2 separate regions of the Homo sapiens genome follow, and region 1 is linked to region 2. The links come from fine-mapping of genetic effects on gene expression. A gene starts in region 2. The other region holds a variant in brackets. All regions are shown on one strand. Distances are between the middles of the regions. Region 1 overlaps TBC1D22A (TBC1 domain family member 22A). Region 2 holds the start of TBC1D22A (TBC1 domain family member 22A).

Region 1 (14,907 bases), 410 kb after region 2:
TGCGAAGGGCTCCTCTGCCACCTCCCAGGAGGTGCCTGCAACTCTTGCAGATAGAGGGCAGTGGTCATGATGAGCACGAAACAACAGGGCGAGTTTCTGGAGCTCTTTGCACCAGCACGGGTATCGCTGCCCCTCTCGCCTGGGGGTGGCTCCCCTCGCCATCGCCATCTCATAGACAGGGGCTTGTCCTCCAGGGACAGTGCTTGGAGAGCCAGGTCTAGCCTGCTGGGCTCTGGAGCAGGCATGTCGCCTGCCTGGCTCTAGAGCAGGCATGTCGCCCGCCCCACTGCCCCCGACAGTGGTATGGGGAATGGGACTGCAGTGTGGGTGCCACAGGGTTGCCGGGCTTGCTGCATGCCTCCTGGGACAAGTTGCCCAGCCTGTCCGCTCCTCAGGTTCCTCACCTAAAAGACGGAGGGGTCAAGAGAAATGCCCGAGGGCCTCCTGCTGGGAAATGTCATGCTGCTGCCCTGCCCCCCGGACCCCGGGGGTCCTCAGCGGCCTCCCCAGGTGGCATCAGGGCCTCCCCACTGCAGACAGCTGGCACTCCACAGCACCTGCTGTGGTTAGGGTTTCTCACCAGGCTGCACACGCGGAGTGTCAGGAGGCTGTGGAAAAGCAAATTAAACCAATTAACCCTGCTCCCCGCGTCGCATGTCACCGTGGTGAATCCTGTTTCATCTTTCTCTGTTAGGGGAAGAAAATAACAAGAGTAGGCAAATGGGCCTTTTAGCCCCATCGTGATTAATTTATTCATCTTTGCATGTTGGCAATTTGTAAACTTCTGACTTGAGTAGCTTTTAAGTGGACCTCTGTGTGCTCTCTGCTGTGCCCGGGAGCAGGTGTTGACGAGTTTTGCCACTGCACGCACAGCCCTTCCTGCTGCCTGGGGGAGCCTTCCGGTATCTTCAGTGTGCACAGAGGGTCCAGGGGAGGGAAGCACTGGTCAGTGCTGCCAGCAGACCCTGGCCTGGAGCAGGCAGAGGAGGGAGGCAGGATTTATACCTAGAACAGTGCTGTCCAGAAGGAATGTGTCACCAGCCACATAGGAACGTGAAAACAAAGAAAGAGGCAGGTGTCATTAATTTTAATAAAATATTTAACCAACACCCAAAATACTATCATTTGAACCTAGAATCAATATAAAAATTATAAAAGAAATAGTTTACATTCTTTTGTTCTTAATAAATATTCAAAGTCTAGAGTGTGTTCTGCACAGACCCGCCCTGTTTCAGACGCACCACTCATGGCCCTTGAAGGCGAAGTCTGCGGTAGCCTGCATCCCATGGTTCCATTACGCTTCTCTGCATAGTGCTGGACACTGTCTCTTTTCTTGTTTATTTCTCCATCTGTTGCCTGACCTACTGGCACACACACTCATACATGTACGCCCTGCAGGGCTGTGGGCTGAGTGTCCTCAGTGCCTGGAGTGGGGCCCGGCATGAGGCAGCCCTGGGCATGTGGTCACCCAGTGAACACCTGCAGTGCCTGTGAGAAGGTCTGGCATGAAGGGCCTGGACCTCAGGCCCATTTGCTGGAGGAGAGAGGCCGGGGTACAGGTGGGAGCTGGTGCTCCAGGTGCTCTAGCTGCAGTGTGGGGGATGCCCCACAGCACCTGGCCTTCTCCCTACCCTTGTAAGCAGAGCTCCAGCACCAGGCGGGGCACTGTCCTGGCAGCTGCCCAGCCGGACAAGGAGGATCCAGCATGATCTCAGAGCAGACCCTATACTTCTTTTATTTTAAAAATTATGTTTAGTATACAGCTAATGCATGTTTATTTTGAAAAGATTAGAATTTATGGATAAGTAAAAAATAAATCATCACGTTTTCTCCCAACGATGACCACGTTCGTCTTTGGCTGATGGTCCTTTTGGAGTTCTTCATGCAAATGCATGTCCTTGAATTTGCATATACACACAGAAAGGTAACACCCAGGTAACACCCAGGCAGGTGCACAGCGGGGAACCTTCATGTGCCTGGCTCATCGTGGGCACCAGAAGCCCCGTAGTGGAAGGTGTAACCAGCCATTCAAGCATTGCCGAAGGCACTTTGCACACATTCAACAACCTAATAAGGGAGTTATTATTTTTCTGGCTTTTTCACTCCAGCGGTTCACCAAGTGGGAAGGAGTGGCACCCAGCAGCTTCTTTGCTCCCATAACTCGGCAAGTGGGAGGGAGGGTTACAGCTCTTTTACTCCTGCCGCCCACAGCTCAGCAAGCATTACAGCTCTTTTGCTCTCGCAGTTTGGCAAGTTCTGGGTTCTTGTCCCACAGCCAAGAGGAATAAGGTACGTGGACGCCAGAGAGTAAGGCAGAGTAGAATTTTACTGAGGAACAGAAAGAAAGCTCTCAGCTGCAAGAAGAGACCTGAAAGCAGGGTGGCCATCTGTGAGGGTAAGTCCAGGGTTTTTATGGGCTTTGAATGGGGGAGTGCATGCTGATAGGTCCATGGATGGGCTTGGAAAAAGCACCATTCGATTGGATAAAGGGCATCATTCAGAAGGAACCAGTTGAAAGAGAGTGGGTAAGACGGGGATGGAAGTTCTCACTCCGGTCGTGGACTCTATCCAGAACTGGCAGTTAGGTGCTCAGGCTCTAAAAGTATCCTTGGCTTGAAGGTCAGGTTTCACTGGGGACCCATCCCTGTCTGTCTAGGAACTTGTCTGTCTCCTGTTGCTATCACTATTATTATCCCATTTTACAGATGAGGAAACTGAGGCATGGAGGGTTATGAGACTTGCCCAGGGTTGTGTAGCTAATAAATGCAGGGCTGGGATTTGAACGTGGCCGTGGGGCACATTCAGATGTGCTTTTAGTTGCTTCACCGGACTCTGCGACGTTCACTGCCCAGCAAAGTGCTGTGGGCTCAGTTTTGGGGATATAGGGACACACAGACCTGTTGAAGTAGTGGTGGAGATGCTGGGGAGAACTCACTGCCCAGCAAAGTGCTGTGGGCTCGGTTTTGGGGATATAGGGACACACAGACCTGTTGAAGTAGTAGGTGGTGGAGATGCTGGGGAGAACTCACTGCCCAGCAAAGTGCTGTGGGCTCGGTTTTGGGGATATAGGGACACACAGACCTGTTGAAGTAGTAGGTGGTGGAGATGCTGGGGAGAACTCACTGCCCAGCCAAGTGCTGTGGGCTCGGTTTTGGGGATATAGGGACACACAGACCTGTTGAAGTAGATGGTGGAGATGCTGGGGAGAGCAGCAGGGACGCATCTGCAGTGCTCGTGGGGTCAGGCAGCATTGGGGGCGGGCTCGGGCCCAGCACTCCCGCATCTAATCCAGTGATCTTGCTTCCCTCGCTGCTGCCCGTTCTCACATGAGCCTCAGCCCTGGGCCAGCCACTCAGAGCTCAGGGTCTCGAAGGAACCCAGGGTCTGCAGTCAACCACCCACCCACCCACCCACTGTTCTGGAGCCTGGGGCCCTAGGACACGGGCTTGTCACCGTCTCACCCTTCCTGGGAAGGCCTGGCACGCGGGGGAGGTCAGTGTCCTCCACGGATGGCACTAGGATTCGTTTGACTCAGGAAAAATAAAACCCTTTTGGTAAGAAGTAGCCAAAGCCATGGCGATATCTGCTCTTCAGTGTCAGGAGCCTCGCCTGCTCTTCAGCATCGGAAGCCTCACCTGGTCTTCGGCATCGGGAGCCTCAGCATTGGGAGCCTCGTCTGCTCTTCGGCATCGGGAGCCTCACCTGCCCTCCGGCATTGGGAGCCTCACCTGTTGGAACCCGCCCGGGGCAGGAGTGAGCGGCATGGCGGCTTCTGTCTAAGTGTGGTCCACTGCTGTGTGGTCCATGGGGGGAAACTGTTGGAAACATCCCAGCTTGGCTTCCCACCTCCACCCTGTGTCCCACTCACTGACGTTTTAGAGAGATGCCTTTGCCTGCATGGTGGTGTGTGAGTCAGGGCTCCACTTCTGCCTGGGTGGTGTGGGTAGGGCCAACCCCCACCCCCACCGGCCCTCAACTTCAACAGGGGTTGCCTGGTGGAAAGCGTGAGCAACTCTGTCCACTCTTGTGATTCATGATGTGTCCGAGAGTGTCTAGGGCACACCCAAGTCGCCCACCATCCTGAGAACCAACACATCCCTCTCCCCAGGCCCCACCTCCCAGATCCCAGGTCAGTTGCTTGGGCTGGGGCCAGGACAATGGGGCATTTTTTTGAGCTCCTTGGGTGCTGATGGACATGTGGTCAGGCCTGAGAACCGTCAACCTCCAGGCCATGCAGCGAGAGTCTGATTCTGTTGCTTTTGATCCCTCACTGATCACAGACCCCACAGCCTTTACAAAGGGCCCTTGCAGACACTCGGTGTCCACTGGAAGGATTCTCGGCACACAGGCTGATGGAGAAAGGCAGGGTGCACTCCACGCTGCCCTCTGGCTGTGGCTTTGTTGAGATGGTGGTGCCCCAGGGACCGGGGGAGGGACGGATTGCAGACCTGACGCGACCTTGACTTCTACAGCATCAGTGTGATGAGCAGAGCCTTCCTTTAACTTTTAGATCCACAGATGTGGCCATTAATTGTTTATGGAAAAGTTAAGAATGAAAATGCAAGTGCCGTCTATAGTTTTCTGGGCTGGGCCCTGGGCAGGCCTCTCTCCACCTGCCCTCCTGGACAGGCAGCACCGTCATTGCTGGGAGAGCCATGTCCCTGAATGTGACCGAGGGATGGCTTCGCCCGTGGTGGCCCCTCTGCCTGCCTGGTGTGGGTGATGCAGAACAGCTCTTGGCTAATAAATGTGCCGCGTTTCCCAGACAGGAGACGACGTGGCCTAGTGCATAAATAAGACAAGCCTTTTTAAAAAAGAAATCTGTATTTAAGGATGTGTTTGGCTGTGTTCTTCTCCTCCCGTAAAGGTCACCCAGATAGATTTTTCCTTCTTTAGCATTGCAGGCTGCGAAGAACTGGGCATTTCTATTCTCCCTCCATCCAGTGAACCTGGCGGACTAAATTAGATTCTGAAATTGAGTGTGCAGTAGAGTCGGTGAGTTACCGTAATGGGAGGGTACTGCTTCTCACCTTGCAAGGAGCGAGGTCATGATAATATGAAGCGAAGTGGATTAAAAATAAAACCAAAGGTATTTATTTATGACCTGCTCAGAATTGGATTGGCATCCATGTAAGTTGCATCTAATGGTGAAAGACAGCAGATTGATGTTGATATGTCCCCAGGGACTTTTAGCCAGTGAAATTCGCTCCCTGAATTCAATTTAAAGGCCCACTGAAAGTATCCAAAATGCGAAAGGAAATGGAATTGAGGAAGTGGGGGTGGAAGCCCAGCAACTGCGAAATAGCAATTGGAAGACGGTCCTGGTGTGTAACCCTCCTGATGCAGGACCGGAGAGAGGACAGTCCTGGTGTGTAACCCTCCTGATGCAGGACCAGAGAGAGGACAGTCCTGGTGTGTAACCCTCCTGATGCAGGACCGGAGAGAGGACAGTCCTGGTGTGTAACCCTCCTGATGCAGGACCGGAGAGAGGACAGTCCTGGTGTGTAACCCTCCTGATGCAGGACCGGAGAGAGGGCAGTCCTGGTGTGTAACCCTCCTGATGCAGGACCGGAGAGAGGACAGTCCTGGTGTGTAACCCTCCTGATGCAGGACCGGAGAGAGGGCAGTCCTGGTGTGTAATCTTCCTGATTCGGAAATGGAGAGCGCAGCTCCGGGATGGCCGGGGGGCCTGCCTCAGTGAGGGTGGGGCAACATGCAGACGGCAGCCTCCGGCACAGCCAGGATGTGAGCCCAGGTCATCTGTCCAGGCTCTGTGCCTGCACAGCTCAGCTCATCCTGGCTGTGCCTATGTGGAGAGCCTGCCATCCTTATCTCCAGATGAAGAAGAGTGTGGCTTGGAGAGCCAGGCCCACTGCCCAAGACCACCTGGACAGGAAGACAGGATGTGAACTTCAGAGCCCAGCTACCCCCCATTCCCCTCCATGCCAGTCTTGCTGGGCTGCGTTTTCTCGAGGCAGGCGACATGGGCATCCCGAGCCTGTGGCCCTCCCTGTCCCTTGTCACCTGCTAGGAGTGGGGAAGGGCAGTTCCAGCACCCTGAGGGCTCCTCAGCCGCCTTCCTGACTTCCTGGATCCAGCTTCTGTTTGGGGTGGGAGGTAGGAGAAGCCGGGGAGCCTGCAGGTGGCCCCCTGGGGGCAAATTCTCGAGGACCAGAGCCCACAGGGCCATCTGAGCAGTGTAGACCCCTCCCTCAGGGAGTCTGCCCAGCTTCATGACAGAGCCTGGGCTTGGGCTGGCCCTGACCTGATGGTCCCCTGTTTCTCTTCTGAGAACCCCCACTGCAGGAGGCTGTCTTGGCCACTCAGCCCTCTCTGATCCCTACTTCTGCCAAGCCCTCTGTGTGTTGGGGTCCCCGGAGACCTGCCCTGCCCTTGGTGGGCTGCCAGCAGCTGTGGATGTGGGCGTGGTCATGTGGGAGGGCGGGGCTGTCAGGCGGTGGTCGTGGGGGGTCCCCCGAGGACCTGTGCTTTTCCTTCCCCGTTGTGGCCTCAGTGGACGTAGGTCAGTCTCCATCTCCTCAGTGTCCGCATCCCGGCCTCCAGACCATGAGCTCTGGAGACAGTCGCCCATGTGTCTTTTGGGGGTGGGACTCAGTGCCCCCATAGCCCATCTGAGACACGGCCCAGCTGCAGGCCAGAGGAGCCCACCCAGCACTCCCAGTAAGCCCAACGCACCTGCCCAGTGCGCCCGGTGAGCCCAGTGTGCCTACCCAGCACTCCCAGTGAGCCTACCCAGCACTCCCAGTGAGCCTACCCAGCACTCCCAGTGAGCCTACCCAGCACTCCCAGTGAGCTGTGTGCTCACCCAGAGTGCCCAGTGAGCCCAGTGAGTCCGGTGTGCCCGCCCGGTGTTCCCACCCAGCATGCCCAGTGAGCCTTGTGTGTCCACCCAGTGTGCCCGCTCAGTGAGCCTGGTGTGTCTACCTAGCATGCCCATGGAGCCCACTGTGTGCCCACCCAGTGCTGGCTGTACTGCTGGCCGTATGTGTGTTTTCCCAGTCTGTCCAGCAGCCCTGACAGTAATTTACTACAGTAAATAAAAATTTGTACTATGTGAATTCAATGCAATAAATGCTGTGACTGGGAAGTAGAATGGGAGAATGAAGGGTACAGGAGGCGAGATTTTAAAAATACACATGTAAGATGATTTTATCCACACTGAACGACTTATAATTGTTGCTTATTCCCTATAGTTCCCTATTTTCCTACTTACATGCATGTCATTCACCTTTATGTAAAACCTTTTACCTCCT[A/G]TCTTTACCTATGAGAATCCTACCTGAATTTTAAGAGTCTGATCAAATGTCACTTCCACAGAAAGGCCTTCTTTGGTTGTAACTGGAATTAATTTTTAAATCTCAGTCTAAGGCAAATAAGCACATTAGAAAGCAATAAATAAATAAATGGTGGCCCCATTTTGCAGAGGAGGAAGCTGGGCCTCGGGGTGGAGTCATTGTTCCAGGGCACCAGGTTGGACCTAGACCTGAAGCTGGGTTTGGTGGAGCCCTGCACCCCAACCCACTGGTGTGAGGTGGTCATGCAGGAGGGGCCAGTTGGCGCTTTGCTGTGCTCCTGGGCTCCCGGGGTGGGCCTGAGCCGGCTCCGTTCTGTGATCCCCTCGTGTGGGCTTCATCTGCTGATGGTGCTGGTGCCCGGAGGGGTCTCCTGGTGCACAGAAATCTGTGCTTAGTGGCAGTTCCAGGGGTGCTGCGGTACTTCCTGGGCTGATACAGGCTTTGTGGGAGTGGGAAGCTCCTGGGCGGAGGCTGCAAAGCTGCAGCAGGGCCCCGAGAGCTGGGTCTCCCCCTGAGGGGCAGGGGATTCAGTTAAATGAAGCTCTGGGCGGCCCCTGCCACGACATCTCAGATGCCGGACTTGGAGCTGCGCAGTGGGCCTCCTGCCTGGCTGCTGGGATGGGGCGGTGGCCGTGGGGCGAGGCCTGGGGCCCTTCTGGGGTTGAGCAGGGAGCAGCTGCCGGCTGGGCAAGTTTTCCTGGGTCACCCACCCTCCACTGTGGGTCACCTCCTCTGACCTGGGCTTGTGTCTTTCTCTCCAGTTTTCCTGGATCACCCGCCCTGCACCGTGGGTCACCTCCTCTGACCTGGGCTTGTATCTTTCCCTCCAGTTTTCTGGGGTCACCCGCCCTCCACCGTGGGTCACCTCCTCTGACCTGGGCTTGTCTCTTTCTCCCCAGGAGCTGCTGCTCTTCCTCCAGAACCTGCCCACAGCCCACTGGGATGATGAGGACATCAGCCTGTTGCTGGCCGAGGCCTACCGCCTCAAGTTTGCTTTTGCCGACGCCCCCAATCACTACAAGAAATGAGCCCAGGCCCACCCGCAGCTGGCCTCACTGTCCCGGGTGGCGCGCCCCACCTGCCTGGCTGGTGGTAGGCCCCTGTGAGCTGGTCCCGGGCTGCTAAAAGGCCTTGTGAGGTGGCCCCACCCTCCAGGGGAGCTGGTGAAGATGGGCCACAGACCTGGTCTAGGGCTGACAAAGACAGGGACAGCCTTTGTTTTCTGAGATACCAAAGAGAGCCAGGGGAGGGCCCCGGGTTCGGCGGCCAGAGGCAGGTCAGGGGTCCCCTCTCCCTCTCCCTGCAATGTCCTTGCCAAATGACTGCCTCGTGCTGCCCCTAGTCCGGGGCAGCCTAGGAGGCCGACCCTCTTTGGAGTCCTGCTGTCTGGGTGCCAGGGCCGGAACGAGGTAGTGGCCATCTCATACCTACTCTGAAATGCAAAACTTCTATTCTGTTGAGTGAAAGAATAAAATGTAGACAAAATCTAGACCGAGACGTTGCGCTGACCCGGGGTCTCTGTGCCGCGAGGTCCCCTCACAGCTGTATTTCACTGCTGCTGGCCCTTTCCCTCCGTGTGTTTTCCTGCTTGCTTGGTTTAAACGTGGCTGGGAAGCTGAAGGCTGGAGTCCAAGCCGTGAGCCCGCCGAGTGCCTGGGAGGCCGTGGGACCAAAGGCTGGGAGCAGAGGGAGGCCTCGCCATCGCCTTACTTTCCACCTTGAACCTCTTTTACAAGAGAGAAACCCCCACCTCCCTGAGGTCCAGGGCCAAGTGGCCCCGCCACGCAGGTAGGCGCCGGCCTCAGCCAGAGCCCCTGGAGGCCCACCCAGGCTGTCGGGCCATGTTGGGCTGGCAGACGGGCAGGGGGTCGCGTCCCTGTCATCAAAGCCCTGAACCACAGTGCTCTTCTCACCGCAGCCTGGAAGCGGAATGAGCTTTTGGAGACTTCCTGGGACTTGCTGTCCTTGTCCAGGTCTGCCAGGTGTAGGGGAGGTGTGACTGGTTCCATCATGGACCGGTTCCTCCATGGACCGGTTCCTCCGTGGACCGGTTCCGCCATGGACCGGTTCCGCCATGGACCACTCCTGCCCTGGACCACTCCTGCCCTGGACCGGTTCTGCCGTGGACTGGTTCCCGCCGTGGACCAGTTCCCGCTGTATACTGGTTCTGCCCTGGACTGGTTCCCGCTGTGGACTGGTTCCTTGGGGCTCTAAGTGCGGAAGGGCCCAGAGCTGGTCCCTGCCCAGCGCCCTGCTAGGGCTGTGTCCTTGGCTCCAGGGGCCTTGGGACTGGCTTCCCAGCGTTCCCTCGGTGTGTCACAGGCTGCATGACCCCTGGAATGCGGGCAGGGCCACAGCCACAGTCTGTCTGATCCCTGAGCCCAGGACAGGCTCACGTCCTCAGCGACCCACTGGTGACTGACTTCCCAGACTCTCCTCTGTCCCTCAGGAGCAGCCGTGTCCTCTCCCAGGCCCTAGGACACTGCCAGAGACTGTGGGACATACAGGCATAAGTGATGTGTGTGTTTCTGCTTCTGTTTTAAAAATCCAGGGTCATTACACACAGCATGGAAATTAGCACAAAATGCTGTGCAAACGTCAGATGCTCCCAAACCAGCAAAGGGATGGGCTTGCTTCACATCAGATGCGGGCACGCCTTACCCCTGCCTTCCGTGTCCCCACCCCAGGGTCAAGGGTTCCTCAGACCAGCCATGCCTCCTCCTCCTGCCGCCTCCTTTTCTAGATGGGGAGGGGATTCCGTCACAAGAAGAGCCGCCCCTCGGCCGTGTGCAGGAAGCCCCATGTCGCTTTGCCGAGATCAGCCCTGGGAGGATCCCCTTCTCCAGCTCAGATCATGCCGTGTGGCCAGAAGGCTGCGGACACAACTGACCTGCTTCTCGAGGTGGTTGATGTTTTAAACAGGAAGCTCCACGGAGTTCAGCCCTGTGTGCATTTCCTCATGTATGTAAACGCCAAGACTGAATGTGAGAGGTGTTGGCCGCGGGCCTTAAGTCTGAGCAGATCCATCTGGAATGTTCGGGGTGTGCTGTCTGGATGTGGTGCGCTAAAAACACGGAATAAAGATCAGTGACAAAGCCGCGGCCTTGGCCTGTGATTCGAGGACTTGCCCATCGAGGACAGGGGCACCCTGGCCCAGCCCTGCCGAGGGTCTGAGCTCAGGGCCATTGCGGCGCACCAGCGTGGGCCCGGCAGCACCCGTGATCTCGCTGCCCCCCGCAGGACCTCTCAGGGAGATGGGGCTGCAGCTGCTCAGGTGGTGCAGGGATGCCACTTGCCCGGGCGGGGCAAGACTCAGAAACCAGTCTGACCCCCGAAGCCCGGCTCTGCACTAGCTGGAACACGGGAGTGTGGGGTCCAGGCTGGCCCCTGTCAGGCTCCTGAACAAGGGACCTCCCCTTGGGCCACATCTGTCAAGCACCTGCTTTGAAAAGGGCTGTTCCGGGGTAGGCACCAGGGTCTGGGGTCCCCCCCGCCTCTCCTGGGATACACTTGCCTCACCCTCACCCACACACTGAAACACCCTCCTTGCCCTGTGTTACTGAAGCAAGGCCCTTCAAAGGGCCTCAGTTTCTCAGGGCAGCTTTCCAGGTGCGCCACACCCCTCTGAGTAACCCCGTCTGGGTGCCCCACCCTCAGGTACCCCACACCCCCCTGGGTGCCCCACCCTCGGGACCCTCCCTTGGCAGCACTTGGCTTTCCACTGCCTTGTGCTGTCCGCTGACGGGTGTGGGGTGTGCTCCTGTCCCCGCGGGTGTGGGGTGTGCCCCTGTCCCCGCGGGTGTGGGGTGTGCCCCTGTCCCCGCGGGTGTGGGGTGTGCCCCTGTCCCCGCGGGTGTGGGGTGTGCCCCTGTCCCCGCGGGTGTGGGGTGTGCCCCTGTCCCCGCGGGTGTGGGGTGTGCCCCTGTCCCCGCGGGTGTGGGGTGTGCTCCTGTCCCCGCGGGTGTGGGGTGTGCACTACTGACCGGCTGTGGGGTGTGCTCCAGTCCCCACGGGTGTGGGGTGTGCTCCTGTCCCCACGGGTGTGGGGTGCGCACTACTGACCAGGTGTGGGGTGTGCTCCTGTCCCCGTAGGTGTGGGGTGTGCTCCTGTCCCCACGGGTGGGCTGGTGGCTCCACAAAGTGGGAGTAGCCTCTTCACCTCTCTTTCCACAGTGACCCAGTGCGGAGCTGAGCCAGGCAGGGCTGCCTTCCTGGGCCCGGTGGCCCGGCACATGGGCTGACCTCACTGTTGCCTGGCTGTGGTCTGCAGGGTCGTAGGCTGCAGGACGGAGATCGGCTGTCCCCAGCAGCCACCAGGTGTTCAGCTCCTGACTCCAGGTCACAGCCCAGCAACTGCCATTCACCTTCACGATTCCCCGGAGTTTGCAGCTCAGCAGTTGGCTCCTCGGGCCCAACTTGAGGTCTTCACAGCCTGTGCAGACTCTGCTCCTGTGGGTGGCCCGAGCCCAGGGGTCCTGAAATCAATCCCTGACCTGTGGTGGCTGCTGTCCTGTGCACCTCACCCTGCCCGGTCCCAGGGAGAGGCTCGGCCTGCTGGCACCACTGCTGTGCCCTTGGCAAGGTCAGACGCGTCGGGGAGCATTGGGGTCCTGGGGAGTAGGAGATGGAGAGTCTCTGTGGTTTGTACTTTTGGAAGAACTAGGAGGTGGGACGCTTCTGTGCCGTGTCACCGATGGATGGAAACAGGAGGAATACTGTCTGTGTTCAAGCAGACCCACTCCGCTGAGGACTTGGGGACAGGCTGCAGAATGACACGCGCCATCGCAGGCTGCAGCATGCCAGCCTCCATGCCGCCGTCCTCCAGAGCTGGAGGCTCCTCGTCAGCCCTGTGGCCCCAGTGATCTGCTCTCGGCCGCAGTCCTGGGGAGTTTGCCCAAGACTCAGACCCCTCGGGGTGTGGACCTCCCTGGGGCCTTCCCAGCCCCAGTCCACCCCACCGTTCCTCTCCTCTCTCAGCCCCAGCCCCTTGGCTTCCTTCTGGCTCTGCACTTTGCCCTGCGGGATTGCGGGCTGCTTGGGGTGGCCCCCACTCAGCTGTGAGGCCTTTCCACACCCACCCTGCAGCTCCTTGGCATGGAGGGTCCCCAGCACAGGATGGCCTCCACCCAGGAGGCACACGGCCGCTTACATGGTCCTGTGTGAGTGACCCAGCCGTAGTCCATTTTGTTGACAAGATGAGGCTGGCTATTCTTTCTTTTTTTATTTTTTTATTTCTTGAGACAGGGTCTTGCTCTGTGGCCCAGGCTGGAGTGCAGTGGTGTGATCTCAGCTCACTGCAACCTCTGCCTCCTGGGTTCAAGTGATTCTAATGCCTCAGCCTCCCGAGCAGCTGGGATGACAGGTGCCCGCCATGACACGCAGCTAATTTTTTTAGTAGTTTTAGTAGAGACGGGGTTTCACCATGTTGTCCAGGCTGGTCTCGAACTCCTGACCTCAACTGATCTGCCCACCTCGACCTCCCAAAGTGCTGGGATTATAGGTGTGAGCCATCGCGCCCGGCCTGATTATTCTTTTAGGAAAAAAAATTATATTCAACTTCCAGATAAGTGGATGTAAATATAAAAATTACCCCCAAATACTCAAAAATACATGGCTATTTTTATCATTGGGAATGGTAAAAGGCTTTCTTAGCATGACGCCAGTGGCAAAAACAAGATAGAAAAAGACTGATGATATATATCCGTAGTATGCGCTACCAAAGCAAATGGCAGGGACGACTAAGACCCAACCTTCATCACCAAAGACAAGTGTGAATGACACGCTGGTTCACCTAGGCAAGGCGGATTCAGATTCCTCAGCATGCGGAGTTCCTGGAAATTGATAAAAATGGGCACAGCACAGAAAATGGGCAGTTCACAAAAGTGGTGCAGGTGACCCATGAGAAGTTCACATCACCAATGGTTACAGAAATGAAAATCATTCACCAGCCACTTGCCCCCACCAGGGCTGGCTGCGTGACCTTGGGCTGTGTCTATGATCATCTGTTATGCAGCAATACAAAACAAATACCCTCTCTCTTTTAGTCTGTATTTTTTTCTGAATATTTTGCAGTGGTTTTTCGTTGTTGCTGTTTTTACATTTAAGCTGTGAAGTGGCAGACACAACACAAACCTAGCTCTCGGAGAATCATTACAAAGCAGACACCCCATGTGATAGGGTTTGGATGTATCCCCACCCAATTCTCATCTTGAATTGTAGCTCTTGTAATTCCCATGTATTGTGGAAGGGACCTGGTGGGAGATAATTGAATCATGGCGACGGTTTTCCCCACACTGTTCTCATGGTAGTGAATCAGTCTCACGAGATAGGATGGTTTTGTAAGGGGAAACCCCTTTCGCTTGGCCCTCATTCTCTCCTGCCGCCATCCATGTAAGACATGACGTTGTGCCTCCTTGCCTTCTGCCAGGATGGTAAGGCCTCCCCAGCCACGTGGAACTGTGAGTCTATTAAACCTCTCTTCTTTATAAATTACCCAGTCTCACGTATGTCTTTATTAACAGCATGAGAATGGTCTCATACACCATGTAACCACAACCCTGGTTGAGAAATAGAACATGACCCACACTGGATCTCCCTGTGTGCTCCCTCCTCCCAAACATGACACACCGCTGACTTCCAAACCATCCTTTAGTTCTGCTTATTTGTACACTTTTATTATATGAATGGAATTATACAATATATACTCTTGTGAACAACTCTTCCTGCTCAACTTTCTGTTTTTTGTTTTGTTTTGTTTTTGAGATGGAGTCTCACTCTGTCGCCCAGGCTGGAGTGCAGTGGTGCAATCTGGGCTCACTGCAAGCTCTGCCTCCCAGGTTCACGCCATTCTTCTGCCTCAGCCTCCCGAGTAGCTGGGACTACAGGTGCCTGCCACCACGCCCGGCTAATTTCTTTGTATTTTTAGTAGAGACGGGGTTTCACCATGTTAGCCGGGATGGTCTCCATCTCCTGACCTCGTGATCCGCCCGCTTCGGCCTCCCAAAGTGCTGGGATTACAGGTGTGAGCCACCACGCCTGGCTTCAACTTTCTGTTTGTGGGAGTATCTGTGTGGTATTAAGCATGGTTTCTTCTTTTCCATTGCTGTAAAGTTTTCCATGACATGGATAGATTGCAATTTGTCCCTTCTACTCCTGCTGGACATTTGGATTGTGTCCAGTTTGGGGGCGTTATAAACAATGCCCCTCTGAATATCTGCGTGCCTGTCTCTCGGTGGACACGTGCCCCCGTTCTGTGGTTTTCTTTCCCCTAGAAGCGGAATTGCAGAGCCATAGGGCATGCATCCTTCCCTCTAATAGATCATGAGAAATGATTTTACAAAGCACCTTTTCCAGCTTACATTTCCACTGGCAGGTCGATGGTTCTCGTTTCTCCACATCCTTGCCCACACTGGGTGTGGTCGGTCCTAGCCCTTCTCATGGGTGTGTCTGCATCTCTGGGTAATCGTCCTTCCCTGCTGCTCACAGAGCTGCATACATGGGCTCTCTCAAAACTCCCATTGTGGTGGAGCACCTGTTTCCTCCCTGCTGCAACCAAAAGAGACAGAAAGAGACTGACTCGGGATTTTTTGTGATG
Region 2 (14,907 bases):
GGGCAGGAGGTCTGCAGGAGCATGGCAGAGGATCAAAGGTGATGGAAGGGGCTGATGGTGGCTGTGAAGGGTGCGATGCATCTCCAGGGTGCATTTAGGAGGCTTGTTTGCATGAGCCGTGGCATAATGGCCCTCCTCTGTCTACCCTGAAAGCCTCCGAAAATCAGTCTTATTCTTCAAAGCATTTGGATTTGCATTTGTTGTTTTTCCTGGATGTGAAAATAATTGATCAATTTTTGGGGGGTGGGGGTGTCTTTTTAATTTTTTTTTTCTTTTTTTGCATCTAAGAAAGCATTTGGGCGGCTCCTGCCTGTAATCCCAATGCTGGCCGGGCATGGTGGCGCGTGCCTGCAATCCTAGCTACTTGGGAGGCTGAGGCAGGAGAATCACTTGAACCTGAGAGGCAGAGGTTGCAGTGAGCTGAGATCATGCCACTGCACTCCAGCCTGGGCAACAGAGTAAGACTCTGTCTCAAAAAAATAAAATAAAATAAAATAAAAAATCCTAAAGCTCCAACATAATCCTTGACTCCACATCCTGGATCCTGGTGCAAGGGGTGGCGTCCCAAGGCCTTGGGCAGTCCTGCTTCTGTGGCTGCTCTATGGGTTGGGGTGGAGTGCCTGCAGCTTCTCCAGGTGTAGGTGCAGCTGCTGGTGGCGCTACCATTCTTGGGTCTGGAGGGTGCAGTCCCCTTCCCACAGCTCCACTAGGCAGTGGAGTTCACTACTGTGAACTGTGTGTGGGCCTCCAACCCCACATTTCCCCTCCATACTGCCCTGGTAGAGGTTCTCTGTGGGGGCTCTGCCCCTGGTAGAGGTTCTCTGTGGGGGCTCTGCCCTGGTAGAGGTTCTCTGTGGGGGCTCTGCCCCTGGCGGAGGTTCTCTGTGGGGGCTCTGCCCCTGGCGGAGGTTCTCTGTGGGGGCTCTGTCCCTGGTGGAGGTTCTCTGTGGGGGCTCTGCCCCTGCAGCAGGCTTCTGCCTGGGCACTCAGGCTTTCTCATACATCCTCTGAAATCTAGGTGGAAGCTGCCACCTTTATTCCTGCATTCTGTGTGCCCACAGGTTTAACACCACATGGAAGCCACCAAGGCTTATGGCTTGTATTCTCCAGAGTGGTGGCCCAAGCTATACCTGGGGCCTTTGAGCTACAGGCGGAGCTGCAGCAGCTGGTATGTGGGGAGCAGTGTCCATAGGCTGAGGAGTGTCCTGGGCCTGGCCCCTCAAACCATTCTTTCCTCCTAGGCCTCTGGGCCTGTCATGGGAGGGGCTGTCTCCAAGATCTCCCAAATGCCTTTGAGGCCTTTGTTCCATTGTCTTGGATATTAGCACTTGGCTCCCTTTTAGTGATGATAATCTCTCTAGCTAATGGTTGCTCCCCAGCCTGCTTGGATTCTTTCCCTGCCACATGGCCAGGCTGCAAATTTTCCAAAATTTCATGCTCTGCTTCCCTTTTAAATATGAGCTCCAACTTTCCTTTGCTCCAATATATGATCATTGGCTGTGACAAGCAGGCAGGCCACCTCTTGAATGCTTTGCTACTTAGAAATTTCTTCTGCCAGTTACCCTAGGTCATTACTCTTAAGGTGTCTTTACAGCAATGCCCTGCTTCTTGGTACCAGTTTTCTGTGTTAGGCTACTTTTGCGGTGTTTATAAAGGAATACCTGAGGACGGGTAATTTATAAAGAAAAGAGGTTGAATTGGCTCATGGTTGTGCAGGATGTACAGGAAGTGTCGTGTTGGTCTCTGCTAGGTTTCTGGTGAGGCCTCAGGGAGCTTTTACTCATGGTGGAAGGTGAAGCGGGAACAGGCATGTCACATGTTGAGAGCAGGAGCTAGAGAGCTGTATTTCTTTTGAAAACATATTCTTTGATTTATTTATAGTTTAAGATAAGCTTGAAAAATATATACTTGGTTTAAACAATCATACCCATTTCCTATTGTGGTTTTCTACTTCCTTATTTGTAAGATTCCCATATATTAACCCTTTGTCAGACATAGCACATATATTTTGTCCAATTAAAACATTTTTTTTGACAAACAAGTAAACATTTTAAGTTGTCAAATCCACCAGTTTCTCTCAACATGGCCTTTGGTGTTGTAGTGGATATTGGGATTGTTCCTGGATATTGGGATTCTAACCCTCCCTTGTTGGGCAGCAGCCACAAAATTTGGAAGGATTGACTCTCATTGCCAGCTACAATGGAGCATCTGCCAGGTGACAGGTCCCCAAATGACACTGGATGACCCAGCTCTTCCCCCTCTTGCTTAGAATTTTTGGGCAGAATATACAGAGGTTGCAACATCCTGAGATAAGGTGGAACTGTCCCGAACAGCTCAGGCTTTGTGCTCATCTCCCCTAGATCAGGATGTCCTGCAATGCTGTAGCCCAGTGGACCCAGTTGCATTTGGGGTAGAGAACCCAGAGTAGAGTGTGCTTTTCACGCCCCTCAGCTGTGGTGTGAAGTGGGGGCACCTGCAGACAACACTCTAGTGCCCTGGGTAGCTTTCCTGATTGCTGGTGGACTGGCTCGCCATGGATCCTAGGCTTGGGTTGATGTTTGGGGCCTCTCTGTGAATAATAAAGTTGCTTTGTCTGACGTGTTTTGCAGGTGTTCTGTTTTACCAGACTAGACATTAAGAATGCAGTGGGTAGGCCAGGCGCGGTGGCTCACGCCTGTAATCCCGGCACTTTGGGAGGCTGAGGTGGGTGGATCACGAGGTCAGGAGATCAAGACCATCCTGGCTAACATGGTGAAAACCTGTCTCTACTAAAAATACAAAAAATTAGCCGGGCGTGGTGGCGGGCGCCTGTAGTCCCAGCTACTTGGGAGGCCAAGGTAGGAGAATGGCGTGAACCTGGGAGGTGGTGCTTGCAGTGAGCCAAGATTGCGCCACTGCACTCCAGCCTGGGTGACAGAGTGAGACGCCGTCCCAAAAAAAAAAAGAATACAGAGGGTGGAGGTATGACAGCTGCAGCAGCTAGGTCAGCTTTGAGCCCCTGCCAGAGTCAAGAACCCTTGCAGAACTCTGGCTGCTGGGTTTGTGCAAAGCCTCCTGGCAGTCTTAGGAAACTCAGCAGAAATTGGTGAGGTGTTTAAGTGTGCTCTCCTGGAATTGGTAAGCAATGTATAGTGCTCCCTTCCCGGGGACTGATACTAGTTCACAGTATTTCTGCTCTCTAGCATCCTGACTAGAGGTAAGCACATGATCCCAGGGGCCCAACAGAGGCATCCTGTGACCTCAAGGGGAAGTTGTCCTTGGCAAAGACTTAAGAGACTGACAGAAGGAGACAGGCCCCTTGGGTCATTGTTGAGCTGCTGTATCAGCCCTTCTCCAAACCTTCTGAGCTACTTCTGGGCTTTTTCATTAACCAACTAATTCCCTTTGTAGTATAAGCTAATTTGAGCTGAACTTTGTCATTCTTGCAACCAACAGCACCCTAACTCATCCTGACTTAGTGTCAGGAAATGGCACGTTGCTAGTCCCTGTAATATAAAAATGGCTGAAAGGAGTTGGGGAAGGGGGCAGTGAAGACGACGCCTGCCTCTCGCGGTGTGAAACTGGGGACCTTTGCTATATGCCGTCTATTATTGTGGTAGGCTGAATAATGAACCCCTGAAGATATACCAGGACTTAATCCTGGGACCTGCAAATGTTACCTTAAATGGCCAAAGGGAGTTTGCAGGTGTGATTGAGCTAAGGGCCGGGTGATGGGGAGATCAGCCTGGACCGGATTATCCAGTGGGCCTGACGTGAGGTCAGAGGGATCTAGGAGGAATCGGAAGGAGAGAAGATGATGTGATGATGGCAGTAGAGATTAGAGTGATCTGCTTTCCAGACAGAGGAAGGAGTGTCGGCCAAGGAATGTTAAGTGGCCTCTAGAAGCTGAAAAAGGTAAGAAACTGACTCTCCCCTAGAACCTCCAGAAGGGGGCAGCCTTGCTGACGCTTTGAGTTTAGTGCAGTGAAGTGCTAAGACTTTGGACTTCTGACCTCCAGGATTGTAGGAGGGTAAATGTGTATTGTTTTCAGCCGCTAAGTCTGCAGCATTCTGCCAACAGCAGCCTTAGGAAACCAATACAGATAGAACAGTCAGCTTTTTACTTTGGGGCACAGGCTCGGTGCCTATGGACGGTACAGCACCAGGAAACTTAGGAGGCAGAACCCACCAAGTGGGAGTGTGGCAGCTCACTCAGTAAGGTCCTGTGAGAGATATTCTAAGCCCGGAGCAGGCCATCTGAAAGCAAAGAAAGCAGAAAACACTTCCCGAGGAACCCAAATGGCATTGCAAATCCAGCCATCCTGAAATACTATCCCAATTTTTTTTTGTTTGTTTTTTTGAGGCAGGGTCTCACTGTTTTCTAGGCTGGAGTGCAGTTGTGTGATCCTAGCTCACTGCTGCCTTGAACTTCTGGGCTCAAGTGATCCTCCTGCCTCAGTCTCCTAAGTAGCTAGGACTAAGAGTGTTTACCACCATGACTGGCTAAAAGAAAAAAAAAAAAGTTTCACAGAGATGGGGTCTCCCTATGTTGCCCAGGCTAGTGTTGATCTCCTGGTCTCAAGTGATCCTCTCGCCTCAGCCTCCCAAAGTACTGGTATTATAGGTGTGAGCCACTGTGCCTGGCCTGCTGCACTTTTGTTTGCCTTATCATGTAGTTCAATGTAGCTCAGTGCATAGCACAGTTCAAACTCAATAACTATATTTTAATGTATTATGAAACATTTTATACATGTAAAAACTCATAAAGAATATAACCAACACCTGAATATAGCCCATCTGCCTTAGGAAACAAAGCATAATAGCACAATTGATCCGCTATGAATGAATTCCTTCCTGTTCACAGTCCCCACCTGTACCTATAGGCAACCACCCTCCTGAATTTATCTTTTACCATTCTGGTTTTTTTTTTTTTTTTTTGAGATAGGGTTTGGCACTATCGCCAAGGCTGGAGTGCAGTGACATGATCACAGCTTGCTGCAGCCTCAAACTCCTGGGCTCAAGGGATCCTCCTGCCTCAGCCTCCTAAAGTGCTGCGATTACAGGCATGAGCCACCATACCTGGTCGCATTCTCATCCTTTAAAAGAAAATAGTACTAAATGGTATCATACCATGTGAATTAATATTCAACTTTTTCTCATTCAACACTGTGGAGTCAGGTGCGGTAGTGCTTGCATCTGTACTCAGCTACTCAGGAGGCTGAGGTGGATCACTTGAGCCCAGGATTTTGTGGCCAGCCGGGGGAACATAGTAAGCCCCATTTCAAAAACAACCCCACAGTTTGCAAAATTCATTTATGTTGATGTATGCAACTAATGTATTCATTTTTACTAACTTATGGTATTCTACTGCATAACTGTGTAGATTATCGATTCTGCCATAGATGGCATTTTGGTTGCTTCTCCCCCAGACCCCAACTACCACTAGAAGCAACGTTGCACTGAACATTCTTGTGTTTGCACGCATAGGCAAGGTACTCTAGAGCACATACCAAGAGTGGAATTGCTAAGTTATAGAGTATCTTTGCTAGAAATTGCTAAGTGGCCATCCAAAGTTAGTGAATGAACGTACACTCCTACTGGCAGTGCAAGAGAGTTCTGCTCTGCTCACAAATCCACATCCTTATTAAGTTTGGTAAAGACAGGTTTTTAAGTTTTTGCCAATCTGTTAAGTGTAACATGGTATGTCCTTAGTTTTAATTTGCATTGCTGCTCAATACTTGTTGCAAAAATGAATAAAAAATGTTCCATTCCATACCTCTGGGATTTGAGAATCTGTCCCAATTCCTAGGTCCCATATGTAGACTCCAACATCTGTATTACTTTGGCTTTCAAAACTGGCCTTCTACTCAGACTTTCTTTTTCCATCTTCACGTTTCTGTTGTGATCCTAGTAATCCTTTGCTTAGCTGGTTTTGAAGCCTTCAAGTCAATCTCAGCCTCACTCCTTCGCCTGAAAACAGTAGCTAGCAAAGTATACGGTAAGCTATAAAAAGCACCCGGATCTAAGGTGTAACCAGTCACTAAGTGCTGCCAGTTTTTCCTCTGTCAATTGTTTCAGTTCTTCCTTCCTTTCCCCTTCCATCAGGTTAATCCTGCTGTCACCTCGCTCACTGGTTCTTGCAATAAGCCAGACTGAGCTGGAAAGAACCGCCATGGTCCTCAGTGTTGTCTGTAGGGGACCTCACTGTCTGAGGCTGTCAGGGCTCTGTCAGGAGGAGACCCCTGGGGCCTTCTGAGCCCTACTAGGAGAGGATTCTAGGAGAGTAGGACGCCTTGCACATAGTAAGTACTAAGTCAATGTTACTTACCAGTAAATGAAGAGGCATGGGAAATTGTTATTATTTTTGAGACGGAGTTTCGCTCTGTCGCCCAGCCTGGAGTGCAGTGGCACGATCTGGGCTCACTGCAAGCTCTGCCTCACGGGTTCACGCTATTCTCCTGCCTCAGCCTCCAGGGAAATTCTTAATCAGAAAATATGTCTTAGATTTTTGTTTTAAAAGAGAACTGGCAGGAGCTCCAAATACACTAAAGCTCCAGTCTGAAATGACAGTCCCTGAGCATTCAATCTTTGGTCTAAGAAGCACAGAAATGTAATGCAAACCAGACACGGTTTTTTTAGTGATTTTCTGCACACACACACACACACACACACACACACAGTAAAAAGATCTAGTCATAACGTGTGCACCTGCAGTTCCAACTACTGGGGAGGGTGAGGCAGGAGGATCACTAGAGGGCAGGAGTTCGAGACTAGCCTGGGCAACATAGCAAGACACCCACCCCCAGTCCCCCCCGGAAAAAAAGAATAAAAAAGGTAAAAATAATTTTAAAAAGAGTAAAAGGAATGTAAAAATAATTTTAATGCATTTTATTTAATCCAATACATTAAAAATGTTACCTAACATGCAAACAATATACAAATTATTTTATACGACGTCTTTGGAATCCTGTATTTTACACGTAAAGCGCATCTCACTCCGGACTAGCCAGGTTTCAAGCACGTGATAGCCGCACAAGGCTGGAACCCAGGCCTGGGGAATTAATTCTTGTCCTCGGTGCTCAAACCATTCTTCCCTTCAAGCCTGGCCTAATCCCCAGTCTCTCTCATCTCTTCGAATACGCTCCGCGGTTATGCCCCTCACCTCACTGCACTGCAAATATTTCGTCCACTGAGTATTTGCTGATCGTCACTCAGTGCCGGGTGACCCAGCTTGACCAGCACCCGCAGCCGCCCTGCCACTGTTGGGCCGGGTATGGTGTGTCTGGCTTCCCTCTGTTCTGGGCCGGCTCCGAAACGCGCTCAAGAGAAATCGGAATCAGACACGGGGCAGTTCAGCTTTGGAAATGAGGAGCTCGAGGCTCCTGGGAGTCCGTTGCGGGCAGGTGGGCGCCGCTGTTGTGTCGGGAGAGCCAGGAGCGACAGACTCAAACTCAGAAACCCAACCACCTCCGCTCCCTCCGCGATGCGTGTAACGTGCGTTGCGCGGCGTCGCCCTTTAATAACGACGGGCGCTCGGAGTGCTGCGTCACTCGCCACCAGGGACTTAGGCGGGACTTCCGGGCGCGCGTAGGCACAACTTCCGGAAGGAGGCGGAAGAGCTTCTCGGCTCTAGGCTCTGGAGTCCCGGGAGCAGTGAGGGGCCACCCGGGGCACAGGAAAGGGCCGCTAGGGGAGGGCCGGGTGCACTCGGGGTGTCTGGGCCGCGGGTCTGAGGGATGAGGAGGGGCCATGGCCAGCGACGGGGCCAGGAAGCAATTCTGGAAGCGCAGCAACAGCAAGCTCCCGGGCAGGTGGGTGTGCCGCGGAGGGCCAGGTCGGGGTCAGGGGTCAGAGGTCAGGTGGCCGCGTTGGCCTCCTGGGCTGCGGGTGGAGTCGGGGGTCTGGAGAGGGCAACTTGGACTCTGAGGAGACTGCTGGATGGTGTGACGGGCGTTGGGGGGCTCGGAGGTCGGAGCGTGGGGTCTGGGGGTGACAGTGGCTGCACGTAGGATCGAGGCTTGCAAGGACGAGGAGGAGCTATTGGCGTTTTTCCTGACACTGGCAGGCTTCTTTCCGAGAAACTCCTGGGCTCCTTGGGGAGGCTGGAAGGAACTGATTCGGGTCATGCTGTGAAGTTTGGTGGAGTCCGGAAGCTGGCCGGGCTGAGGCCCCCCGTCTGCTGGGTGGATCAGTTTCTGCAGGGGGTGTGGTGTTTTTGACCCACTTGATTTGCCTGTGGTCTCTTGAGGGCTGCGGCTCTTGCCTTGAGCATAGAAGAGGACTAGAGTTTCCCTGTGAGTTTCCATGTTTCTGCTTGCTGGTGTCAAAACCACCTCCTATGTTGTGTTAGCAGGAAGTTTTTTTTTTTTTTTTTTTTTTTTTTTTTTTTTTCTTCGGCTGGAATGACCTGGGTACACCCTAGATGCTATACAGCTCCAGAGCTCCAGAGTCCTTGTCTGATTGCTGTGGCGCTGAGCTATGCCAGGGCCCTAGGGAATGAGACATTACGTGGAGGGTACCTAGGATAAAATCAGCCACTGGTGAAAACAGATCAGAGATAAGCAAACGTCAAGATTTCAGAACATAGTTCTGTTCCAAAGCTGAAGTCTGGAATGCTGAAAATTATGAATTGTGTTACGAAGATAAGTCTGAGTAGAATCATTCATAAACACAGTAAAATGGTTTGTACTCCTGTTTCATAATAAATATTATTGTTTGAGTGTTTGAATGATAAACTTTGGAATTTACTGCATCCAGTTAGAAAAGTTTACTTTTGGCCAGGTGTGGCGGCTCACGCCTGTAATCCCAGCACTTTGGGAGGTCGAGGTGGACAGATCACCTGAGGTCAGGAGTTTGAGACCAGCCTCACCAACATGGAGAAACCTAGTCTCTACTAAAAATACAAAATTAGCTGGGCATGGTGGCACATGCCTGTAATCCTGGCTACTTGGGAGGCTGAGGCAGGAGAATCACTTGAACCTGGGAGGTGGAGGTTGCAGTGAGCCGAGATCGTTCCATTGCACTCCATCCTGGGCAATAAGAGCGAAACTCTGTCTCAAAAAAAAAAAGGAAAGTTTACTTTTAAGAGTGATCTGGGGGTTAGCAGCGTGAGTTACTGACAGCTCAGACAGTGGCTTTGAGAATGAAGGGAGTCATCAAAGGTGGCCGGAGACCCTATTCGACTCCACAGGACCGTGCTTGATTCGAGAACAGTAAGACCTTTCAACAAAACCAGTGTCAGGGTCCAAGGTGAGTGAAGATTCTGGAATGGTGGTGGGTAGGAGGTCCTGGTAGTGACAGGAACAAATGCTGTAGAACATAAGAGTCCAGGGAAGAGGAGCCACATGACAGTGTAACTTTTATGTGTTACTTTTAGGTCTTAAGGTTTTGGTTCCTCATCAGTCTAAACTCTAATTCTTAATCAGCTTAGATGTAAGAATAACAGAGCTGCTGTGTGGAGTTACAGCAGTGACTCAACCTTTGGATTGAAGGCTGTGGCTCTTGGTAATTTGTCCTTATACTGAGTTGAATTTATGTCCATCTGGAAACTATGGATGTGACATTTGGAAATAGGGTTTTTGCACAAGTAATCAAGGTAAAATGAGGTCATACTGGATGAGGGTGGGCCTTAGTTCGTCAACTAGTATTTTTATAAAAAGAGGGAAATTTGAATACAGAGAGACACACACAGGGAAATGGCCCTATGGAGACAGAAACAGAGATTGGAATAGTACATTTACAAGCCAAGGAAAGCCAGGGGTTGCTGGCAGCCACCAGAAGCTAGAAGAGGCAAGGAAGGATGCTCACCTAGAGACTTGACAGAGAGCATGGCCCTGCAGATGACCACTTGATTTTGGGTTTTTGGCGTTTAAAACTGAGAGAGAATAAGTGTCTGTTGTGTTAAGCCATTCAGTTGGTGGTAATTTGTTATGGCAGCCACAGGAGACTAATACAGTCTCCAGCTTTCTTCTGTGTGAACCTGAAATACCGAACACCAGCTTTCCTTTTCCTCTGACTTTGATGCTATTCTGTGTCTTAGGCACTTTTGAGAGCAGCTTCTGTATTACCTTTGTGAAGTTGGAGTCTTGGAGAGTTCGAGGCTGTCACTGAAGAGGGCAGAAGAAGAAGGAGAGGTTGGGTGCACCAGGAAGGCCTGTGAAGCCTCTGTGTCTCCCATCCGTCTTGTGGCTCAAGCCTCTGGCAGTGCTGCTCTTTCAGGTGGCAGGCTGGAACTCTTCCCTGAAGGAGGAGTCACAGAGGGGTGCCCGTTTTCCTATCAGTAGTGGTGATTGGTCACTAGCTGCGTATTTATTTAGTCCACACCTATGCAAGCACAGTGCTAGTGGAGATCCTAGCCAGGTTCCTGTGGCTTTGGCAGCTCTTTCAATTGTTTCCCATGATTGTTTTCTTTCTTTTTTTGTTTTTGTTTTTGTTTTTGTTTTTTTTGAGATGGAGTCTCACTGTGTTGCCCAGGCTGGAGTGCAGTGGTGTGATCTTGGCTCACTGCAACCTCTGCCTCCCAGGTTCAAGTGATTCTCCTGTCTCAGCCTCCCAAGTAGCTGGGATTACAGGCGCCCACCAGCACGCCTGTCTGTTTTTTTGTATTTTTAGTAGAGATGGGGTTTCGCCATGTCGGCCAGGCTAGTCTCGAACTCCTGACCTCAGGTGATCCATCCACCTCAGCCTCCCAAAGTGCTGGGATTATAGGCGTGAGCCTCCATGCCTGGCCTTGTTTTCCTCCTTTTTTTTTTTTTTTTTCTGAGACAAGAGTCTCTCTCTGTAGTCCAGGCTGGAGTGCAGTGGCATGATCTCAGCTCACTGCTACCTCCACCTCCTGGGTCCCGGTTGAAGCAGTTCTCCTGCCTCAGCCTCCTGAGTAGATGGGATTATAGGCACTGGCCACCACGCCCAGCTAATTTATGTGTGTGTGTGTGTGTGTGTGTGTGTGTGTGTGTGTGTGTGTGTGTGTATTTTTTTTGAGACGGAGTCTCACTCTGTTGTCCAGGCTGGAGTGCAGTGGTGCGATCTCGGCTCACTGCAAGCTCCGCCTCCCGGGTTCACGCCATTTTCCTGCCTCAGCCTCCCGAGTAGCTGGGACTACAGGCGCCTGCCACCACACCTGGCTAATTTTTTATATTTTTGGTAGAGACGGGGTTTCACCGTGCTAGCCAGGATAGTCTCGATCTCCTGACCTTGTGATCCTCCTGCCTCGGTCTCCCAACGTGCTGGGATTACAGGCTTGAGCCACTGTGCCCGGCAATTTTTGTATTTTTAGTAGAGATGGGGTTTCACCATGTTGGCCAGGCTGGTCTTGAACTCCTGATCATGTGATCCACCAGCTTCAGCCTCCCAAAGTTCTGGGATTACAGGCGTGAGCCACCACACCCAGCCTTGTTTTCCTCTTTGTTTTTGAGTGCAGCCCTCATCTCAAGGAAACTCAGGAGGAAGACTACACCCACTGTACAATACAAGACTAGTAAGGGATCTTTCAGATAGTTCAACTCTTTTTTATTTTTGAGATGGAGTCTCGCTCTGTCGCCCAGACTGGAGTGCAGTGGTGTGATCTAGACTCACTGCAATCACTGCCTCCCGGGTTCAAGTGATCTTCCTGCCTCTGCTGCCAAAGTAACTGGGATTACAGGCGCCCACCACCATGCCCAGCTAATTTTTTTGTATTTTTAGTAGAGATGTGGTTTCAACATGTTGGTGTGGATGGTCTCGATCTCTTGACCTCATGATCCGCCCGCCTTGGCCTCCCCAAGTGCTGAGATTCCAGGCATGAGCCACCGTGCCCGGCCCACACCTCCTGTTTTTATGCAGCCTGAACTAAAGTCCCCCTTTTTTGCATCAAACTCAGTGTTGTTGGTGCCTCTGGCTTCCTGTTCTCCCTGGTATGTGCTTGCTTTCACTAGTGAGATCCACAGGTTTAGGAAAAGTATCTTTCTCATTCTTGCATTGTCAGTACCGATACCTGGTGTTTATTCCGAACTATCTCCTCGATTAGCCTGGAGAGTGAGTGGTTTGGCCAGGGCTATAAACTGCAGGAGAGGTGGTCTTGCTGGTAGACCCTCGGTTTATGCACACCCTGGTCCTTAGGTTGCATATGTGGCTGACGCTTTCCTAGAAACTTTGTTTCTGGATGAGCCAGGATGTGTGGTGTGGTAGATAGACCCTCCTAGTCAGAGGACTAGGAGTTGGTGGTCCAGATTTTAACTTTCTTTTTCCGGTAGTGGTCTTCACCAAGTTACCTCTGGGGCCATCAGTGTCTGTATCTGTAGCACAAAGCGGTTGAGTTTGGTTTAAGTAGCTATGGCAAATGGGGAGATATCTTTGGCTTAGCACGATTCTCTTTGAGGAGAAAAGAATGGGCTTCTTGGACCAGTTTTGAGAATTTGATGATTTGCTGATCCAGCAAATATGTATTCAACCCATAGTATGTGTTAGGAACAGCCCCAGGTGCTGGAGATAATATTAGTGAACAAAATAGACCTAGATCTCTGCTCTCCCAGAGCTTACAGTGCAGTGGGAGAGCCGGGTATAAATAACATAGCTCAGTTAAATGGAGTTAACTGTTGGAAGGTGACAGCTGCTATCAAAACAATGCTGGGAAAGAGGACTAGGTGGCTTAGTGGCAGGTGTGGTGGTGAGAAGGAGCCCTTCACTGAGGTGACATTTGAGGAAAGATTTGCACGAGGTGAGGGAACAGGCCAACCAGGAGGCTGGGGAAGAGCGGTCCTGGCAGAGGAGTGAGCAGGTGCAGAGGACTCCCAGAGCGATGCTGGCGTGCTTGAGGAGAGGAGCTGGGGCCAGGGTGGGTCTGGCCGAGAGAAGGGGAGAGTCGTGGGGTGCGTCATGAAAGGTGGTGGGGTAGGGCCTCATGACCACAGTGAAGACATGGACTGTTCTTTGATTCTGGCTGAATGGGGAACCTTTGGAGGGCTTTGAGCAGAGAAGTGGCATGGTCTGCATTAGGTTTAATGGGATATCTTTGGCTGCTGTACTGAAGACAGATTGGAGGCGTTGGGAGTCGGGGCAAGGGCAGAAGCAGGGAGACCAGGAGGCCAGGGTGCCGCAGCGTCCAGTGGTCACTGGTGGTGGCGGCTTGCACCTGAGTGGAAGCTGTGGTGGTGGCAAGAAATGGTAAGTGATAAGAATCCGAAGGTTTGGCCGGGCGCGGTGGCTCACGCCGGTAATCCCAGCACTTTGGGAGGCTGAGGTGGGTGGATCACTTGAGGTCAGGAGTTTGAGACCAGCCTGGCCAACATGGTGAAACCCCGTCTCTACTAAAAATACAAAAGTTAGCCAGGCGTGGTGGCAGGCGCCTGTAATCCCAGCTGCTTGGGAGGCTGAGGCAGGAGAGTCGCTTGAACACAGGAGGCAGAGGTTGCAGTGAGCCAAGGTCGCGCCACCGCCCCGCAGCCTGGGCAACAGAGCGAGACTCTGTCTCAAAAAAAAAAAAAAAAAAAAAAAAATAGAATCTGAAGGTTCAGTCTCTGACTGTCTGGGCTGGTTCTTTCCCGGGCCGCTGACTCTCTTGGCTCCCGAAGGGCTGTTGCTTTCCGCAGTTGCAGTTGGAATTCTCGCCACACTTCACTTTAAAAATGCCAAGACAAAATCACAGCACACTGGGCTTGAGAACACAGGCAGTCTTTCAGTGTGGGTCTGATGTTTGCTATTTTAGCTCAGCTCCGCCTGGCAGGGTGTGGTCTGCTGACAGAGGGTATGCAGGCAGCTGGGGTATGTGGAGTATGACGTTTGAAAGTGGCATGGTGGTGGCTGGGCGCTCTGGCTCATGCCTGTCATCTCAGCACTTTGGGGGGCCCAGGCGGGTGGATCACCTGAGGTCAGCAGTTCGAGACCAGCCTGACCAACATGGTGAAACCCCGTCTCTACTAAAAATACAAAAAATAGCTGGACATTGTGGCAGGCATCTATAATCCCAGCTACTCAGGAGGCTGAAGCAGGAGAATCATTTGAATCTGGGAGGTGGAGGTTGCAGTGAGCTGAGATCGCGTCACTGCACTCTAGCCTGGGCGACAGGGCAAGACTCTGTCTCAAAAAAAAAAAAAAAAAAAAAAAGAAAGTGTTATGGTAGCAAGAAAGGCCCAAATTGAGCATGGCAAGGATGTGAGTGCTGGGATAAAGCTGGAGCACAAGAGGGTTCTTAGTGATGTGGCTCTGACAGCCTTCAGCTTACATTGCCAGAGCCACGAGATGTCTGTGAGCAAATCAGACGGTCGGCTGAATAGGCCACAGTCCGTCCTCAGCCGAAGGAGAGGCACTGTTGGGGATAATGAATTCATTTGGAAAACGTTTACGAGCTCCTCTCCTGTGCCAGGTGCTGTGGTGCGTGCTGAGCAAGCCATGTGGCTCTTCACGGCTGGACGCCTGCCCTGTGAACACATGCGCACAGACTGCAGTGCTGGGCAGGTGGCAGTCCCGGGACCCTGGCAGAGTAGCAAGGCCCTCACTGGGTGGAATGCTCATGTCCTCCTTACACAGGTCCCGCTTCCGCCGAGACCTGGCTGTACAGCAGGAACCGATCTGGCTGCTGAGGTCAGGGGAGGGTGTATAGGAGTGGGGAGCGCTTGACTGGGGAGGAGGGGCATGGAGGGTGGTGAGCAGGCACTGGAGCTGCTTCCAAGGCCATGGTGAAGATCTGAGCTGTGGTCCTAAGAGCCATGAGAGAGTGTTGAAGGGTTTTAAACAGGGAGGGGTGTGATACTGTGACACTGTTTGTCATCCTTGAAGAGAGGGCGAGAGAGGAAACTGGTGGGCTTCTGAGGAGGCCGAGGCCAGATGCTGTGGGGTTGGAGAGGATCGGGCATGTTCAGGGTACACATGGCACACTCAGGATTCACTGATGGGCGGGGTGCTGGGGGTCGAGGTGATCTCCAGGGTGCTGGCCTGAGGGGATGGGAGTGTGGT

What was found. PIP is the estimated chance that this variant, and not a neighbour inherited with it, causes the effect.
Region 1: its variant is fine-mapped to the expression of TBC1D22A in tibial artery (GTEx, PIP 0.90).

Annotation. Positions count from the first base shown.
Region 1 is chr22:47,165,286-47,180,192 of GRCh38, forward strand. It overlaps TBC1D22A (TBC1 domain family member 22A), which reads left to right. Exons shown (of 13, transcript NM_014346.5): 13 at 8,213-10,408. The coding sequence ends at 8,341. Among named protein-coding and RNA genes, the nearest start is that of TBC1D22A-AS1, 260 kb to the left of the region's middle. RefSeq lists enhancers at 1-148, 5,969-6,468, 10,566-11,656. The variant A/G (reference allele first, on the strand shown) is at 7,275.
Region 2 is chr22:46,755,059-46,769,965 of GRCh38, forward strand. TBC1D22A (TBC1 domain family member 22A) reads left to right here and starts at 7,592. Exons shown (of 13, transcript NM_014346.5): 1 at 7,592-7,790. The coding sequence starts at 7,729. TBC1D22A-DT (TBC1D22A divergent transcript) reads right to left here and starts at 7,470. Exons shown (of 1, transcript NR_186691.1): 1 at 6,853-7,470. RefSeq lists enhancers at 6,639-7,473, 7,210-7,339, 8,040-8,119, 9,050-9,119, 9,160-9,239 and 5 more and a silencer at 8,240-8,299.